Regions from separate parts of the Homo sapiens genome. Here region 2 is linked to region 1. The links come from fine-mapping of genetic effects on gene expression. A gene starts in region 1. The other region holds a variant in brackets. All regions are shown on one strand. Distances are from middle to middle. Region 1 holds the start of TIGAR (TP53 induced glycolysis regulatory phosphatase). Region 2 overlaps TIGAR (TP53 induced glycolysis regulatory phosphatase).

Region 1 (8,339 bases):
ATATAGAAGATTTCAAGAGCTAGTAACACAAGACTTTTGGTGGTCTTTCTTTTTTTTTTTTTTTTTTGAGACGAGTTTTACTCTTGTTGCCCAGGCTGGAGTGCAACGGCGCAATCTGGGCTCACTGCAACCTCTACCTCCCGGGTTCAAGAGATTCTCCTGCCTCAGCCTCCCGAGTAGCTGGGATTACAGGCGAGTGCCACTACGCCCAGCTAATTTTTTGTATTTTTAGTAGAGACGGGGTTTCACCATGTTGACCAGGCTGGTCTTGAACTCCCGGCCTCAGGTGATCCACCCGCCTCGGCCTCCCAAAGTGCTGGGATTGCAGGACTTTCGGCTGTCTTTGATCTTTATAAAGTATCTGTACAAGGTATCTTTATACTTTTATAGAGCATTAAAATTTTATAAAAGTATTAGCTTTATAAAAATACTAAATTACAGATGAGCTAATAGTATTTTGCTTGCTTTATTAATATACAGAACAATTATTAGCATTACACAAAAAGTAACTGCCAATAAAAGTACAGTAAGAAAAATCAGTTTTGCTATCAGTAACTTTACTAATTCGGCCAGGTGGGGTGGCTCACGCCTGTAATCCCAACACTTTGGGAGGCCGAGGCAGGCGGATCACCAGAGGTCGGGAGTTCGAGACCAGCCTGACCAAAATGGAGAAACCCCATCTCTACTAAAAGTACAAAAGTAGCCAGGCATGGTGGCACATGCCTGTAATCCCAGCTACTCCGGAGGCTGAAGCAGGAGAATCGCTTGAACCCGGGAGGCGGAGGTTGTGGCGAGCGGAGATCATGCCATTGCACTCCAACCTGGGTGACAAGAGTGAAACTCCGTTTCGTCAAAAAAAAAAAAAAGCAAAAACAAAAAAACTTTACTAATTCATTTTTAAATCATTAAAAGTATATTAAATTTAGTTTGCCAAAAAATTTTAAAGCTTTACGAGCTGCCTAAAAATGGAAGTGAACTTTTCTGAGGATCCGACAAGATGGCCGAGGTAGAGCAGAAGAAGCGGACCTTCCGCAAACTCACCTACCGCGGCACAGACTTGGACCAGCTGCGGGACGGGACGTGTCCTGCGAGCAGCTGACGCAGCTGTACAGTGCGTGCCAGCGGCCGCAAGTGAACCCGGGCCTGCGGCGGAAACAGAACTCGCTGCTGAAGCGCCTGCGCAAGGCCAAGAAGGAGGCACCGCCCATGGAGAAGCCGGAAGTGGTGAAGACGCACCTGCGGGACATGATCATCCTGCCCAAGATGGTGGGCAGCATGGTGGGCGTCTACAACGGCAAGACCTTCAACCAGGTGGAGATCAAGCCGGAGATGATCAGTCACTACCTGGGCGAGTTCTCCATCACCTATAAGCTGGTGAAGCACTGCCGGCCCGGCATCGGGGCCACCCACTCCTCCCGCTTCATCCCCCTCAAGTAGTGGCTCAGCTAATAAAGGCACACATATTTCCAAAAAAAAAAAAAAAAAGGAAGTTAAATGGATGGTTTTGCCGGGGACTCACTGCAAACACCTACAACATTCCAAGGAACCAGACCCTTCAGTAGTGCTGGATAGGTGATGGTAATGCCAACCTACACGTGTTGGAGTTTTCAACAATGCTGTGCCATAAGCTCATGAGAAGTTATAGTCTGACAATGATGATAGACTTGAATTCTGGAATCTTGGGCAGTCTGTTCCAGAAATGATACACACTGGTACTTTCATTTCAAAGTATGAAGAAAGATAAACCACATACAGGAACAGCACAAGATTCCTAACAGGTTCTGTTGAACTTAAATTGCTTTAAAGATTTTTTTGCATTATCTGAAGAGGTAAGTCCAATAAAATTATCTAACTCTTCAAAAAGTCATTACATTTAACTATGGTGATAATGAGTCAAATTTAAAAATCACTTCTTTTCCTGAAAGAATCACCAGGTTTTGGTTTTGAGAACTCTGAAGGCAAGAAGCAGGAGGATCCAGACCGGAAAGCATTGAACCAGCCCTCTCACTCCATCTTCCTACACATAAAACAGAACAAAATAAACTATTGTCATAACTCCACACAATTATATTAAGAGACTAAAAAGTAGCCTCAAAAATGGCTGGTGATGTTCAAGTAATCTACAAATACCGGGTTTTAACAAATTAAGTAGGAAACAAAAGACGGTGAGTGGTAAAGTTGCTTTGGTTAAACTCCTACTTCCTCAACTTGCCATGTGACTTTAAGCAAGTTACAAGGCGTCTCTGTCTCAGCTGCCTCATGTGAAAAATGAGGATATCAGTCCTTAACTCACTAAACTGTCAGATTTTAATTACAACAGTGCCTGGCAAATAATCATTTATTAAGACTTATTTTTTAAATGATTCCTATGAGGGCCTCCGGAATCAAACCCTTTTTAAGCAGCAGAAAGGGAATAAAATCCATATTTATATGACTATTGTCTATTAGGAATCTAAATAGGAATCATCTTACTTTTTAGGGGTTGCCTTACCCCAAATATTCTACAACTTCTGAGTTTTCTTTTTTTTCTTTTTGAGACAGGGTCCCACTGTGTCGCTTAGGCTGGGGTGCAGTGGCCCAATCACAGCTCACTACAGCCCTCACTTCCCAGGCTCACATGATCCAAGTGATCTTCCTGCCTCAGCCTCCCTATTAGCTAGGTTCACAGGCATGCACCACCACAGCCAGCTTTTTTTTTTTTTTTTTGTAGAGAGGAGGTTTCACCATGTTGCCCAGGCTGGTCTTGAACTCCTGTGCTCAAGGGATCCACCCACTTCCGCCCCCCAACGTGCTAGGATTACAGGGGTGAACCACCTTGATGGTCTGAGTTTCAATTATAAATATGACACTGGGCTGGCTGGGTCAGGCGTCTAGAAAGTGCACTAACATTGGAAGAAAGGGTGATCAGGCCTCTAGTTCCTGTTCTGCTACCGATTAGCTGTGTGACCTTTAGTAAGTTAAGAATTCTCCCAAGGCATTCTATACAACCGAGAGGGGTGGGAGAAGAGATAGTGAGGAACTAGATTTCTAAGGTAGCCATTAAAATCCTGCTAATCCTAAACAGACAATTTTAGAGGATTCTTAAGATTATCTTTCTTATAAAGGAAGGACAGGCCAGAAAAGATAGCTGTTAAAGTCAATTGACAAAGTTAAATCATATTAATGTCCTTTGTGAGCTCCATGAATGCAGAAATGGTATGTTATTTATCTGTATGATCCAGTCTACTGGCACACATTACCTACTCAAAATGCTGGTGTGCTGAACTATACGTTCGTATTTGGGAATCAACTGCACTTTTATTGGAGCTTTCTTTATAGAAGTTATTTCTCAGATATATTTCTTTCCCTGTTGCATCATACACTTTACCTGTCCCCCATTTAATTCTCGCATTAAAGTAGTGAGATACGCACTATCATTTGCATATCAGGAAACTTAAGTCCAGGCTACCTGGCTCTTAGCTGGAGAACAGACTCCAACCGAGGTCTACCTTGCCTGAAAAATCTGTGCTCTTAGCAGGGCGCGGTGGCTCATGCCTGTAATCCCAACACTTTGCGAGGCCGAGGTAGTCGGATCACTTAAGGTCAGGAGTTCCAGACCTGCCTGACCAACATGGCGAAACCCTGTCTCTACTAAAAATACAAAAATTAGCCGGGCGTGGTGGCGCATGCCTGTAATCCCAGCTACTCGGGAGGCTGAAGCAGGAGAATCGCTTGAACCCCGGAGGCGGGAGGTTGCAGTGAGCAGAGATAGCGCCACTGCACTCCAGCCTGGGTGACAGAGCGAGGCTCCATCTCACAAAAAAAAAAAAATAAAAATAAAAATCTGTGCTCTTAACTACCCTGATTTTCACCTCCCGTTAACACTTGGCAAATACATAAAGACCTATCAGCATGCAGCTCCGTGTAACGTTATGATAATAAAAACATTTATTTGGGATGATACGGTCTGCTGAGATCAGAGCTGTGATCCTCTTTTCTCTCCCAGAACTGTAACCTCTGGGGAAAAGAAAGAAGTCTCATATATGTGCCTGGGGGGCTGACTGCCTGGGGAAACGAGGGGGAACCTCAGAAACTGAGAGGATAGCGGAAGGCAGCCGGCATCAAAAACATCAGCCATGGACGAGCAATTCTGCAAACTCTTTGCAATCTGCTGGGGAGCAAAATCGGTACCCAGACAAGTCTGTGGACATGTCTGGCACCGTTTTTGGTGCAGCCACCAAGTGCCTACGAACCCCGATCCCTTGCTCCTCCGGGCCTCACTTTATCTGAAACACGGAACGAAGCTATCTAAGACCTGCCGTCGTCCCTCGGGGCTGCTGGGGTGAGAGGAGGGGCGACACGGGACGGCCCCAGGGCAAGCGCCCCGGAAAAAGCGCTTCCAAGCCAGCCCTCCCGGGCTGGAGCGAGCAGGGAGGGGAGAGGGTGGTGGACCCGTTTTCCCTTCACCCGCTCCAACACACTCAAGGAAGAGAGAGAGAAAGACATCCTGCCACAGCCATACTCACTGCCGGACAACAGTCAGAGCGAAGCGAGCCATGTTCCCGGAGCCGCGTCCCGTCGGTGGCCCCGCGCCGCGCTGCCCCTGCACTGCGGGCTACCTCCCCCACACCACTTCCGCCAAGCAGCCGGCCGGCTCCGCCGCCATAGGCCGAGGCGGCCTCGCACGTCATCCCCGAAGGCCACTCAGGGCCGGGCGAGGCCGACGGGGCGGGGGAGACGAGGGAGCCACGGGGGCCCCGCCCAGGGCTGCGGCGCTTGCGCCCCTGCGCGCCGGCCTGTGATTGGCGCGCGGCAGGTGCGGGAGGCCCCGCCCGCGGAGTCCGCGGTAGGATTCCTTCCCTCGATAGCCGGCAGCCTGCGTTCGGGGCAGATAAGGAAGCCGGCGCACTGATTTGTGGTTGTTGCGATTGAGGCTGGAATGCAACCGTTCGTCTTATAGCTGGCCACTGTGATGAACCCCTCACGGGTGTACAGCGACCAACAGACTGTGTTCTATGAGGTCTGTTAGTCCCTAACCTTAGGGACGTAGCGTCGGCCAGGTCTGTAGACTTAGACCCACCCACCCCAACTCCGCCGGGACAGACGCCCTCCGTGACCAAACTTTAGTCGGGCTCCTTTGAGGCCTTTTCTATACTAGACGGCATCCTCGGCCTGCTGAGCCTGGTTTTACCAAAGAATCCTGCTAAGCCTGTTTATCAAGAGAGACCTCACTGTTGATGCTCTCTTCTAAGGCCCTTGATATCTAGTAAAGTTCCTCCTCCCCCTCCCCCAGATAGCTTACCACGTTCTGGTAATTTCCCATCTTCTCTTTCATCCCTTCCATCCCGCCCCCTGGCTATAAATCTCCACTGGTCCCGGTTGTATTCTAGAGTCGAATTCAGTCTCTCTCACCTATTGCAGTAGTCTTGAGTAAAGTCTTGCCGTTTTTAACAAGCCTCAGATGAATAATTTCTCTTTAATAGCCTTCAGAACGTTGAGGGAGTTGCTTCATGTTAGATATGAGTTCTAAATTTCTTTTCAAAGAATCAATATGTCAGTATGTTCAATTCTTTGCTTTTTACTTTTAAACTTAACTTCCTCCTAAAGCAACCTTCTCTTTTTTATTTATTTATTTATTTTTTTGAGATGGAGTCTGGCTCTGTCACCCAGGCTGGAGTGCAGTGGTGTGATCTCGGCTCACTGCAAGCTCCGCCTCCCGGGTTCACGCCATTCTGGCTCAGCCTCCCGAGTAGCTGGGACTACAGGCGCCTGCCACCACGCCCGGCTAATTTTTTGTATTTTTAGTAGAGACAGGGTTTCACCGTGTTAGCCAGGATGGTCTCGATCTCCTGACCTCGTGATCCGCCCGCCTCGACCTCCCAAAGTGGTGGGATTACAGGCGTGAGCCACCGCGCCCGGCCACAACCTTTTTCGATTACCTGCTGCACTCTGACTCCTTCCCATTACCTACTCCACCCTGACTCCTTCCCATTACCTACTCCACCCTGACTCCTTCCCATTACCTACGCCACCCTGACTCAGATTACCTGCTCTGTCATAACTGTTTTTCCCGCCAAACCACTCACCCCCATCACTCTCTTTAGATTAGCCAATCGGAATTAGTTTAGCCTGTGCGGTGGGGCACTACACAGCAGCAGGGGCCACGTGCGTCAGGGATAAGAACCCCTTCCCCTCCCTTGTCCAAGTGTGCGCTCACCATTGCTCCATCTGTAAGGACGCACCCTTCTATAGAAGTACCTTGCCTTGCTGAGAATTAAAAAGAAAATTTTATATTCGAGTGCTATTTCTTTTGTGGCACTGAAAGTTTATTTATAACATGAGCTTCTCTAACCCTGGGTTTTGTGACAGGTAAACTGGGATAGCAGTACCTAGCAATGTGACACAAGTAACAATAATGTTAGCTAGGTGACATTGTCTTCCATGCACTGTTACCTAAATTCTTGTATTTCATAATGCATTTATTTCCTTGAATCCCCACTTATATATGAAAAGATGTGTTTAGAGAAGAGATGAATGAGATACTTAGATTCATAGGCACACATTTCAAAACAGTCTTACATGTAATATCACATTTGGCCTTCTGAACAATTCTAAGGTAGACAGGATAGGCTACATTATCTTCACTTTAGAGATGAGAAATATGGCCGGGCATGGTGGCTCACGCCTGTAATCCCAGCACTTTGGGAGGCCAAGGCAGGTCAGGAGAATCTGCAGGTCAGGAGATAGAGACCATTTTGGCTAACACGGTGAAACCCCATCTCTACTAAAAATACAAAAAATTAGCCGGGCATGGTGGCACGTGCCTGTAGTCGCAGCTACTAGGGAGGCTGAGGCAGGAGAATCGTTTGAACCCGGGAGGCAGAGGTTGCAGTGAGCCGAGATTCCAACACTGCACTCCAGCCTGGGTGACAGAGCAAGACCCCATCTCAAAAAAAAAAAAAAAGAAATATGGCCGAGAGAGAGACAGCGATTTGTCTAGGCTCACACAACTGGTCAGCGGTGACACAGAACTAGTTTAGAGGTCCTCAAACCTATCTTTACATTAGAATCGTCTGGAGACCTTTGCCAGGCTACACCCCAGAAAAATCAAATCTGAACTTCTGGGGGAAAGACTCAGGCAGCAGTATCTGTATGCTTTTAATCCCCAGCTGTTTCCAACATACAAGTGGCTGTTCTGAGAGCTAGCAGTTTAAAGCAATGCTTCACAAACTCGAACGTGCACACAAAGCAGTTGGGCATAGTGTTAAAATGTAGATTCTGGAGTTAGTAGATTGGAGTGGGGACCAAATTCAGCATCTCTAACAGCTTGCAGGTCAACAGGAGGCATTTTCAGGATGAGAGTGGAGGGATAATTCAGAGGGCCCTAACAGTGGGGCCCAGATATCGTGTGTGTGTGTGTGTGTGTGTGTGTGTGTGTGTGTGTGTGTGTGTGTGTGTGTCCGTGTCCGTGTTCTGAATGCCCAAATGAATGAATCATCCCAGCAGATTCTCCTGGAAGTTTGAGCTGAAAAAATGAAATTAAGTAGTTATCTGTGAGGGGTGAAGCAGAAAGAAAGCACAGAAAGAAATCATAGGATAGAGTTAGGGCTATGAAGGGGCATGGTGATTGAAGCTGTGAAGAAACAGAAGCCATAAATAATACAAGTGAGAGAACAGAGGAGAGGGTACGAAGAAGCAAAGTCAATGGAAGAAGCAAAGAGACACACAGAGAGACACAGACACAAGTGAGTAATGCAAGGAGTACCCAGTCACTGGTCGCTCAAACTGCCATAGTCCCAGATACCTTGAAAGTTCCGGTTTGTATAGTAAAACCTCTTTCACTTTAAGGTGGTCCAAGTGCATTTCTAACGCCTAAATAAAAACAGCTTCCCATTTTGTCTTATTTAATACACACAGTAACTCTGCAAGGTAGGAGTTATTTCCATTTCACAGATGAAGAATTAAGGCACATACAGGTTAACTAATTTCCCATTTCTTGGGCCAGGCACAGTGGCTCACGCCTGTAATCCCAGCACTTTGGGAGGCCGAGGCGGGCGGATCACTTGAGCTCAGGAGTTGGAGACCAGCCTGGCCAACATGGTGAAACCCCTCCTCCACTAAAACACAAAAAGTAGCCGGGCGTGGTGGTAGGTGCCTGTAATCCCAGCTATTCGGGAGGCTGAGGCAGGGGAATTGCTTGAACCCGGGAGGCAGAGGTTGCAGAGCCAAGATCATGCCACTGCACTCCAGCCTGGGCGACAGAGTGAGACTTCATCTCCAAAAACAAACAAACAAACAAAAACTAATTTCCCATCTCTCAAGATCTCAGAACTGAGTTTGAGACCAGATAAGTATACTCC
Region 2 (8,339 bases), 33 kb before region 1:
TCTGACAAAAGTATACAATCCAAATCTAATAATGAGGATATGTCAGGAAAAAAAACCACAAGAACTCACCTATTTTTTAAAAAGTAACAAGATCAAGAAAGACAAAGTTCATCTGGTTAGATAGATGGTGGGAGAAAAAAAGAAGGGCAAAGGAAGGCAAAGGAGTAGACGGAAGGACATGAAGAAACATGACAACTAAATGCAACACAACACACAGTCCTGGATTGATTGGATTCTTGATTCAGAAAAAAAAAAAAAGCCACAGGTACATCAACAAAATAATTGACAGAATTTAAATTTGGTCTAAGGATTAGCTAATAGGCAATATCAATGTCAAATTTCCTGACTCAGATATTTATTCTGGGTTATATATAAGAACATTGTTGATCTCAGGAAACACACATTGAAATTTTATAGGGGAAGAGTATGAGGACTCAAAGTTACTCTCCAATGTTTCAGGGGAAAACAGAGGGAGAGAGAAAAAATGGCAAAGCAAGTGGGACAACAGGTAAGCAAGTGGTGAATAAGTGTGAAGAGTATACAGCCATTCCTTCTACTGTTCTTGCAACTTTTCTGTAGGTTTGATAAATCCAAGATAAAAGATTACCAAAACACACGCACATACACATTACTGTAATTATTCTCTATGAGGATACAGTAGCTCAGTGATTTTTCTTTTTCTTTTTTTTTTTTTTTGGAGACGCCCAGCTAATTTTTGTATTTTTAGTAAAGACAGGGTTTCACCATGTTGGCCAGGCTGGTCTTGAACTCCTGACCTCAGGTAATCCACCCACCTTGGCCTCCCAAAGTGCTGGGATTACAGGCCTGAGTCACCATGCACAGCCCATTATTTATCAAATGATTTTTTTTTTTTTTTTTTGAGACCCAGTCTTGCTCTGTCACCCAGGCTGCAGTGCAGTGGCGCGACCTTGGCTCACTGCAAGCTCCACCTCCCGGGTTCACGCCATTCTACTGCCTCAGCCTCCCAAGTAGCTGGGACTACAGGCGCCGGCCACCAGGCCTGGCTAATTTTTTCTATTTTTCAGTGGAGACGAGGTTTCACTGTGTTAGCCAGGATGGTCTCTATCTCCTGACCTCGTGATCTGCCCGCCTTGGCCTCCCAAAGTGCTGGGATTACAGGTGCGAGCCACCACGCCCAGCCACCTCAGCGATTGCTTGGTCACAAAATTACTAAGAACCAGGCCTTGAACCTGAATCCAGGCCTTCTGACAATAGATCTTTCCAGTGTCCCTGCCCTGTCACTTATCAATGAAGAAATCACCCCCTTAGGCCATATTGCTGAACAATGAACCAAGTGATTGAGAACTGTGGGGGGAAATCCTAAAGTTTTTAAAGCACTGGTAGTTACCTGTCATGACGACCTACTTAGCCATCTTGTTTGGACACAAAGGAACTGACACATACTTCAATCTGAAAGCTGTACTTCCAAATTGATGGGGCCCAAAGAAAGAGGGGTAAAAAGCAACATTTACATGAAACAAGGATGTTTTCTAGGAGCCCCATTCAATTTCCAAACTGGTAAGTGCTGCGTCTGATAGCAGGTACTCAGCCCAGCACCACCGCTCTACTGAATACTTCTTTCCTTTGCATCTCCTGTGTCTGTGCTTAACAGGGCTGATAATTATGCCAGGTGGATTCACCTAGGATGATCTATTTCAATTAAATTGTGACTGACCTTAATATAGTGAAGACATATAATAGAACCATTTAACTTACACGAATTCATCTACTTGTAAATGTAATATGCATGCAAGTATACATAATATAAGCATATGTACTTAAGTGATATGGCCAAATATTGCACTTCCTGCATAAGCCTAAGCCATGGAATGGGTGTGAGATGCACTGTTCTCTCAGGGATATCTTACTTTATGTGCTTCCCCTAATATGAGCATGTCCTTGCTGAGTATGACATAGCATTTAAAGAAATTAGAATAAAGATGCTAACTAAAACAGGTTTTTAGTTAAAAAGCAATAAAGGAGAATCCTCATCCAAAAATGGAAATGAATAGTAGGTGAGTGAGGAGTGGGAAGGACAGGAAAATAAGAGACAGGTGAATGGGAGCCATGGTTTCGACTCCAGGTGCAAGGGAGCCTAAGCGACAGGCTCTGCTTGAAGCTGCGAGCCTGGGGTGAAGCCTGGAACTGGAAACTTCTGCCCATTCCCTCTGCTAGGCCTCGGACTAAACCTAACAGAAACAGGCAAGACAAGGTGGGAAAGATGAGTACAGGGAACACAGAGGACTTTTAGGGCAGTGAAAATACTCTGCATGATACTATAATGGTGGAATACATGTCTTCATACGTTTGTCCAAACCCACAGATCATGCAACACCAAGAATGAACCCTAATGTAAACTATGGGTTTCAGGTGATGTGGATATGTCAGTGTAATGTGGGCTCACCGATGGTAACAGATGCACTGGTCTGGTGGGGGATGTTGATAGTAGGAGAAGCAATGCGTGTGTAGGGGCAGGGGATAGATGGGAAATCTCTCTACCTTCCTCTCACTTTTGCTGGGAAATTAAAGTTTCTCTTAAAAAATTAAGTCTCTTAAAAAATTCATTTGTTAAAAAACAATCAAAAACCGGGAAAATATTACAAATAAAATATCATTGCATAAAAGACTCAGGCAAAATGAGAGATCTATGACATTCACAGATGGGAGGATGAGAAATCCTAAGCTAACCTAGAAATTCAATGTCCAGGCTCCTTAGTTAGCCATTGGAGGCACTCTGGCCTGGTCCCTGCCAACATCCCTGGCCTTGCTTCTTCAAATGGCCCAACAGCCAGTGCTGCCATCTTCCCTGCCTCCAACCTTGTGCTCCTATAGCACCCCCTACAGCCTGCTCTCCACATTGCAAGCAGGATGGTCCTGCTGAAACAAGTCTGATCACATCACTGCCCAAACTGGCCAATGGCATCTCATCTCACTTGAGTAAAAGCCCAAGGCCTCAGCACAGGCCACCAGGCCATGTGGCCTGTCCTCTTCTCCCGTCACTCTCCCATCCCCCTTGCTCAAAGGAGTCAAGCCTGATCCTTCCTCATGGCCTCTGCACTCTACTCCTTCCATGCTGCTCCTCTCCCCAGAGCAGCAGATCTTACATCCTTCAGTGCTGACACCATCGAGTCCTCCCTGCCCATCCTGGATAAAGCAGCATTCCTCCCACCAGTCTCCATCCCCCTTACTCTGACCTATTTTGCTCAACAGCACTGACCACAATGTGAGCCAACACACTGTCTTCTCTGACAGAACAAATGTTCCACAAGGACAGAGACTTTGTTTTGGTTCATGGCTACATATTCACAGCTTTATCATAGTTGTAGTAGTTCTTAAAATAGCCTGGCATGTGTGTGCCATGCTCAAAAAATACGTATTGAATAGATGAAGAGATGCATGTGACTCCAATAAAATTTGTAACAGAATTTTTCTGGAAATTGACCAATTGATTCCAAAATTTATATGGAAGAATAAAAGTGCATAAATAGTTAAGACAACTTTAAAAATGAACAAGAGGAGGTATCCACCCTTTAAGACAGTCAGCTGCAAAGCCACAGTAACTAAGTATGACACTGATAAGGAAATACACAGATAACTAAAAGAGTCCACAGACTCTAGCAAATGAGGGGGTGTGAGGCCTGAGAGCACACACCACAAACCAATTGGGAAAGAACAGCCTTTACAATGGTGTTGGGATAACTGTTTCAACCACATGAAAAAAAAAATTAAATTCTTACCTTATACTATAAAAAGCAAATTTCAATTTCAAGATTTGACATTCAGAAGTTCTCAAAAACTGTAAGAAGACATTACTGTATGACCTCATGGTAGAGAAGTCTTCTTAAAGATACACACCAAAAAAACCCCATAAAGGATAAGGTATATTGGTTTGTCTTAAAAATTAAGAACACATATTAAAAAAATGCATCATAGGCCAGGCACGGTGGCTTATGCCTGCAATCCCAGCACTTTGGAAGGCCAAGGCAGGTGGATCACCTGAGGTCAGAAGTTCAAGACCAGCCTGGCCAACATGGCGAAACCCCGTCTCTACTAAAAAAAAAAAAAAGGCCAGGCGTGGTGGTGCATGCCTGTAGTCCCAGCTACTCAGGAGGCTGAGGCACAAGAATTGCTTGAACCCGAGAGGTGGAGGTTGCAGTGAGCCAAGATCACGCCATTGCACCCCAGCCTGGGCAACAGAGAGAGACTCTGTCTCCAAAAAAAAAAAAAAAGAAAAAAAGCAAAGAAAATAAAAACTGAATATACCTAAATGCCCACTAATAAACAAAAATGTGCTATATTTAATAGAATAGAGTGGTTATAATTAACTAGATCTATATATATCAACACAGAGATGCCTCCAAGACATAAGTAAAAATAAAGAACACAGATGGCTTGATATTTATTTTTAAAGCACCAAAACAGTACCATCTCCTTCCAGACACTAGGTGAAAATATAAGGAACAGATGAACATTGCAAGCAGATGAACAGGTGAACATATACACAGACTCACTGCAGTGGCTGCCTCTGGAGGGAACAGGACTGTGAGAGCTGGTTAAAGAGAACTCTACTTTTATCTTTATGTTTTGTTTCTTTAAAAAAAAAAGTGGAAAGATGACTTCAGTATGGTGGGAATGGAGATAATTATTGTCTGTCCTTTTTGCTTATTTTTCAAATTTTTATTTACAGTATACTTCCTCTGATGCTCAAACACGTGCCCTGTTTCAATACTGGTAGAAAACTGGTAGTGCTAGACACACTAAGAACAATATAATACTGAATTTTACATATGATTTAAAATGATGTCAAAGTAAATTTTGACTATATGTGACTATAGCCTTAACTGACAACTTTAGTATTAACCCTCTTTAAAGTTGAGACTCACAGCATTTAGCAACATGGTGACTTAAAAGCGAACTACATGTA[G/A]AACAGTTTCTTCATTTAGATAAAGATTTCTGAAAGACCAATCTTGTGTATAAAATTAAGTTAATCAAAATCCCTTTTCTCCAGTGCCATCTGGTGGAAAGAAGAGGCAACCTCACCTGTACCTGCCACAAAATAACCACAGCTGTGGTTATCAGAGCAACATTCTCTCCCCCCCAACCACCCCGCCTTCCCTGCCCGCAGAGCACCCTCTGTCATCCCCTCTGTCACCTAGGCTGGAGTGAAGTGGTGCGATCTCGGCTCACTGCAACCTCCACCTCCCGGGTTCAAGCGATTCTCCTGCCTCAACCTCCCAAGTAGCTGGGATTACAGGCGCCTGCTACCACGCCTGGCTTTTTTGTATTTGTAGTAGAGACAGGGTTTCACCATTGTTGGCCAGGCTGGTCTAGAATTCCTGACCTTGTGATCCGCCCGCCTCAGCCTCCCAAAGTGCTGGGATTACAGGTGTGAGCCACTGGGCCCGGCCCAGAGCACCATTCTTTACAAAGAAGGCCCCTCTTTTATTCTGATTACTGTGTGGTGTTCTGTTAACTGTTTACTTTCTTTAGAGCCTTCCTCAAACTGGAAATTCTTCAGCCTACAGGTTAGATAAGAAGCAAGTGGATATTCTTCATTTTTTTGGCTTTCCTGGTTTCCATTGACTTGACTTTGGCAAGGCATTATTTAGAAAAGGCTGTTCTTCTATCTTCTGCTCCAAGATTCTTTCTTTACTGTATTTAAATCAAATGTTTTAACTTCTTCCCCCAGACCATTCTGCAATCATAATCTGTATTCATCCACATTTCAAGCCCTCTAGAATAAAAAATTCCAATAGTTGATTTATACGTAAAACATGTTAGTGTTATTTTGCTTTACATAAACTTATAAGGATTTTTTATTTAAAGGATTTAAAAATATAACACAGTCAATATAAACATGTACTGGGAATTATAAACCATTCTTTCTTCTAAGCACTGGATGAGATACTAAAAACATACAGTATCTTACCAATAGCCATTAAAATAGGCTAAAATGAAAAAGAAACCGTTGTAACAAGGTTACTAATCCCCCAACTTTCAATGCTGAGTTCCTTCATCATCCATGTGCAATCCAGAGATGACATCTAGCAGGGTGGTAAAATTATTCTGGAAAATGCCAACTGTACTTGGACAAAATAAGTTAATTCTATATGGTTGTCCATTAAAGTTTTATGTGGCTATGGTTCCACTGGAGCTAAAAATTGGCTTTTAACTGTTTCCAAATCAGAACTAGCAGAGGAGAGAAGTAAATAAAGCCAATGGCACTCCCTTCAGAGGCTCAAAATGGTTAGATTTTGATGCAGATTTAACCTTAGCGAGTTTCAGTCAGTCCATTTAGATGATCCTGTAGGTTCATACAAATACACTGAACCGTTGGTTTAACTTCTCTTCCTTCCTCAAAGTTTATGATAAAGAGACTCATCCCTGTATTGGGAGTGACTGACATAAGTTCAGATCTGCTCAGAGTGGCTGGTAAGGAACACTTAAGGTCAGTCAGAAAATAATCAAACAGACTTCTCATGTAAGCACCGTGACTCACAACTAAGACACTGGCTGCTAATCCTGGAATACCGCTGTCTGAATTAACTTTAGAGCTGTGATTTTTTCCTAAAGGAAATATCTCTGCCAAAGAAGTTTCCAGACAGTTGCTTGGAGATCCTTGGGAAAACTGTTCTTTTTGATCCGCTTCTTTCAGGATTAGTTGACAAAGAAATTCAAAAAAGTCTATTCCACGCATTTTCACCTACAAGAAAAGAAATAAAAGTCAAAATAAAGTGACATTAATGACTTCCTTAAAACGTTAACATAGAACATAACTGACTGGATTTTTTTCTAATATTGAATGCCAAGTACTACACAAGCAGAAGAATATCAATCTACATTTCTATTCGTTCAATCAGTAGTTTCATGGACATATATAAGTATCCACCACATTTCTGGAATTACAAAAGCACCATGGAGACCAAGATGAAGAAGATCCAATTCCCAATTCCTGAGTTCAAAGCACTCACGGTCTAGTTAGGGAAATCTACAAGCCAACAGAAACTCATAAAACAGTGCTAACCAGGAAGCTGTCTCTGGCACTTCAGTGCCACTGGAACAACAGCAGCAACAAATCCTTCCCTTACTAAAGTAATGGAAAGTATTTTCAAGAAAATTAAGATAAAGATTAAGGAGGTGGTGGTGGGTTAGGGGGAATCACCAATATGCAATTCGAAGCAGAACACTCCAAAGAAATGCAAGCACAGGGATGCCACCATGAACAGAGCTGAGGAGGCAGCAGAGGCTTGAAGACTTCATGTTTTGAGTTATTTCACCTCGAGTGACTTGCCGATCACCCTCTTTGAACTCCACTCCCACCACTAAGCCACTGCTTCATATTCAAAGGTCTTTTTTAGAAGTACCATCTAATAACACCTTTCCTTAAGTCCATTATCAATAATGACAAAGGCAACTGAACAGTAAATAAGATTTTAAATAGAAAAGAATAATTTGCTAAGTAAATAGATAATTTAAAATGGAAAAGAGAATGAACCAAGCAACTTTCAAACTGCTTAGCTAAAATTCCAAAACATCTAATTTTGAGTCTTAATTCAACCATTCTGACATCGGCAGCGCCACATACCTGGTCCAGCGTCTCTCCTCCGGGCGGTGTAAACACAGGGCACTCTTCCCTGGCTGCTTTGGCCATGGCCCTCAGCTCACTTAGCGCTTTGCCTTCTACAACCCCGTATTTCTGAAACAGTCCAATAGATAACAGTTTCTCAAATGAAATTGCAATATAACAATTAAGTTTATGTTTATGGCAAATTTAGAACATTCATCCCAGGAATAAGCTAACTCTCCTCCACTTAATTGATTCTATCTCCTCTGAACTGATAATGAGAATGTACTCAGTAGAGGGCCATGAACCTTAGAAAATATAATTGAAATCTTAAGTTGTACACTATGTCCAAATGGGTTATTTTAGAAGAACTTGCTATTGCAAGCAGATGGTGGGAATTTATTGAACAAATACAGAGATTTGCACAGATTATAGGACTAGAGATTAACATGCACAAGGTACCAATTCAGCCATCTCCCATCCACACATACTACACCATTTGATCCCAATGACAGCACCATGAAATAGCTAAATAAATATATCACCATAGTTATAAGGAAGTTGAGTTTCAGAGACGCTAACATGAGAGATCTATTTCTTTTTTTTTCTTTTTTTTTTTTTTGAGACGGAATCTCGCTCTGTCACCCAGGCTGGGGTGCCGTGGCGCGATCTCAGCTCACTGCAACCTCCGCCTCCTGGGTTCAAACGATTCTCTTGCCTCAGCCTCCCGAGTAGCTGGGACTACAGGCGCGTG

The links.
Region 2: its variant is fine-mapped to the expression of TIGAR in lymphoblastoid cells (GTEx, PIP above 0.99). The same link has a PIP of 0.9 or more in adrenal gland, anterior cingulate cortex, monocytes, tibial artery, tibial nerve and whole blood.

The regions. Positions count from the first base shown.
Region 1 is chr12:4,317,470-4,325,808 of GRCh38, reverse strand. TIGAR (TP53 induced glycolysis regulatory phosphatase) reads right to left here and starts at 4,596. Exons shown (of 6, transcript NM_020375.3): 1 at 4,506-4,596. The coding sequence starts at 4,537. It also overlaps the pseudogene RPS15P7. RefSeq lists a silencer at 4,506-4,885 and an enhancer at 4,351-5,004.
Region 2 is chr12:4,350,645-4,358,983 of GRCh38, reverse strand. It overlaps TIGAR (TP53 induced glycolysis regulatory phosphatase), which reads right to left. Exons shown (of 6, transcript NM_020375.3): 5 at 7,607-7,717; 6 at 1-6,724. The coding sequence ends at 6,293. Among named protein-coding and RNA genes, the nearest start is that of FGF23, 25 kb to the left of the region's middle. The variant G/A (reference allele first, on the strand shown) is at 4,946.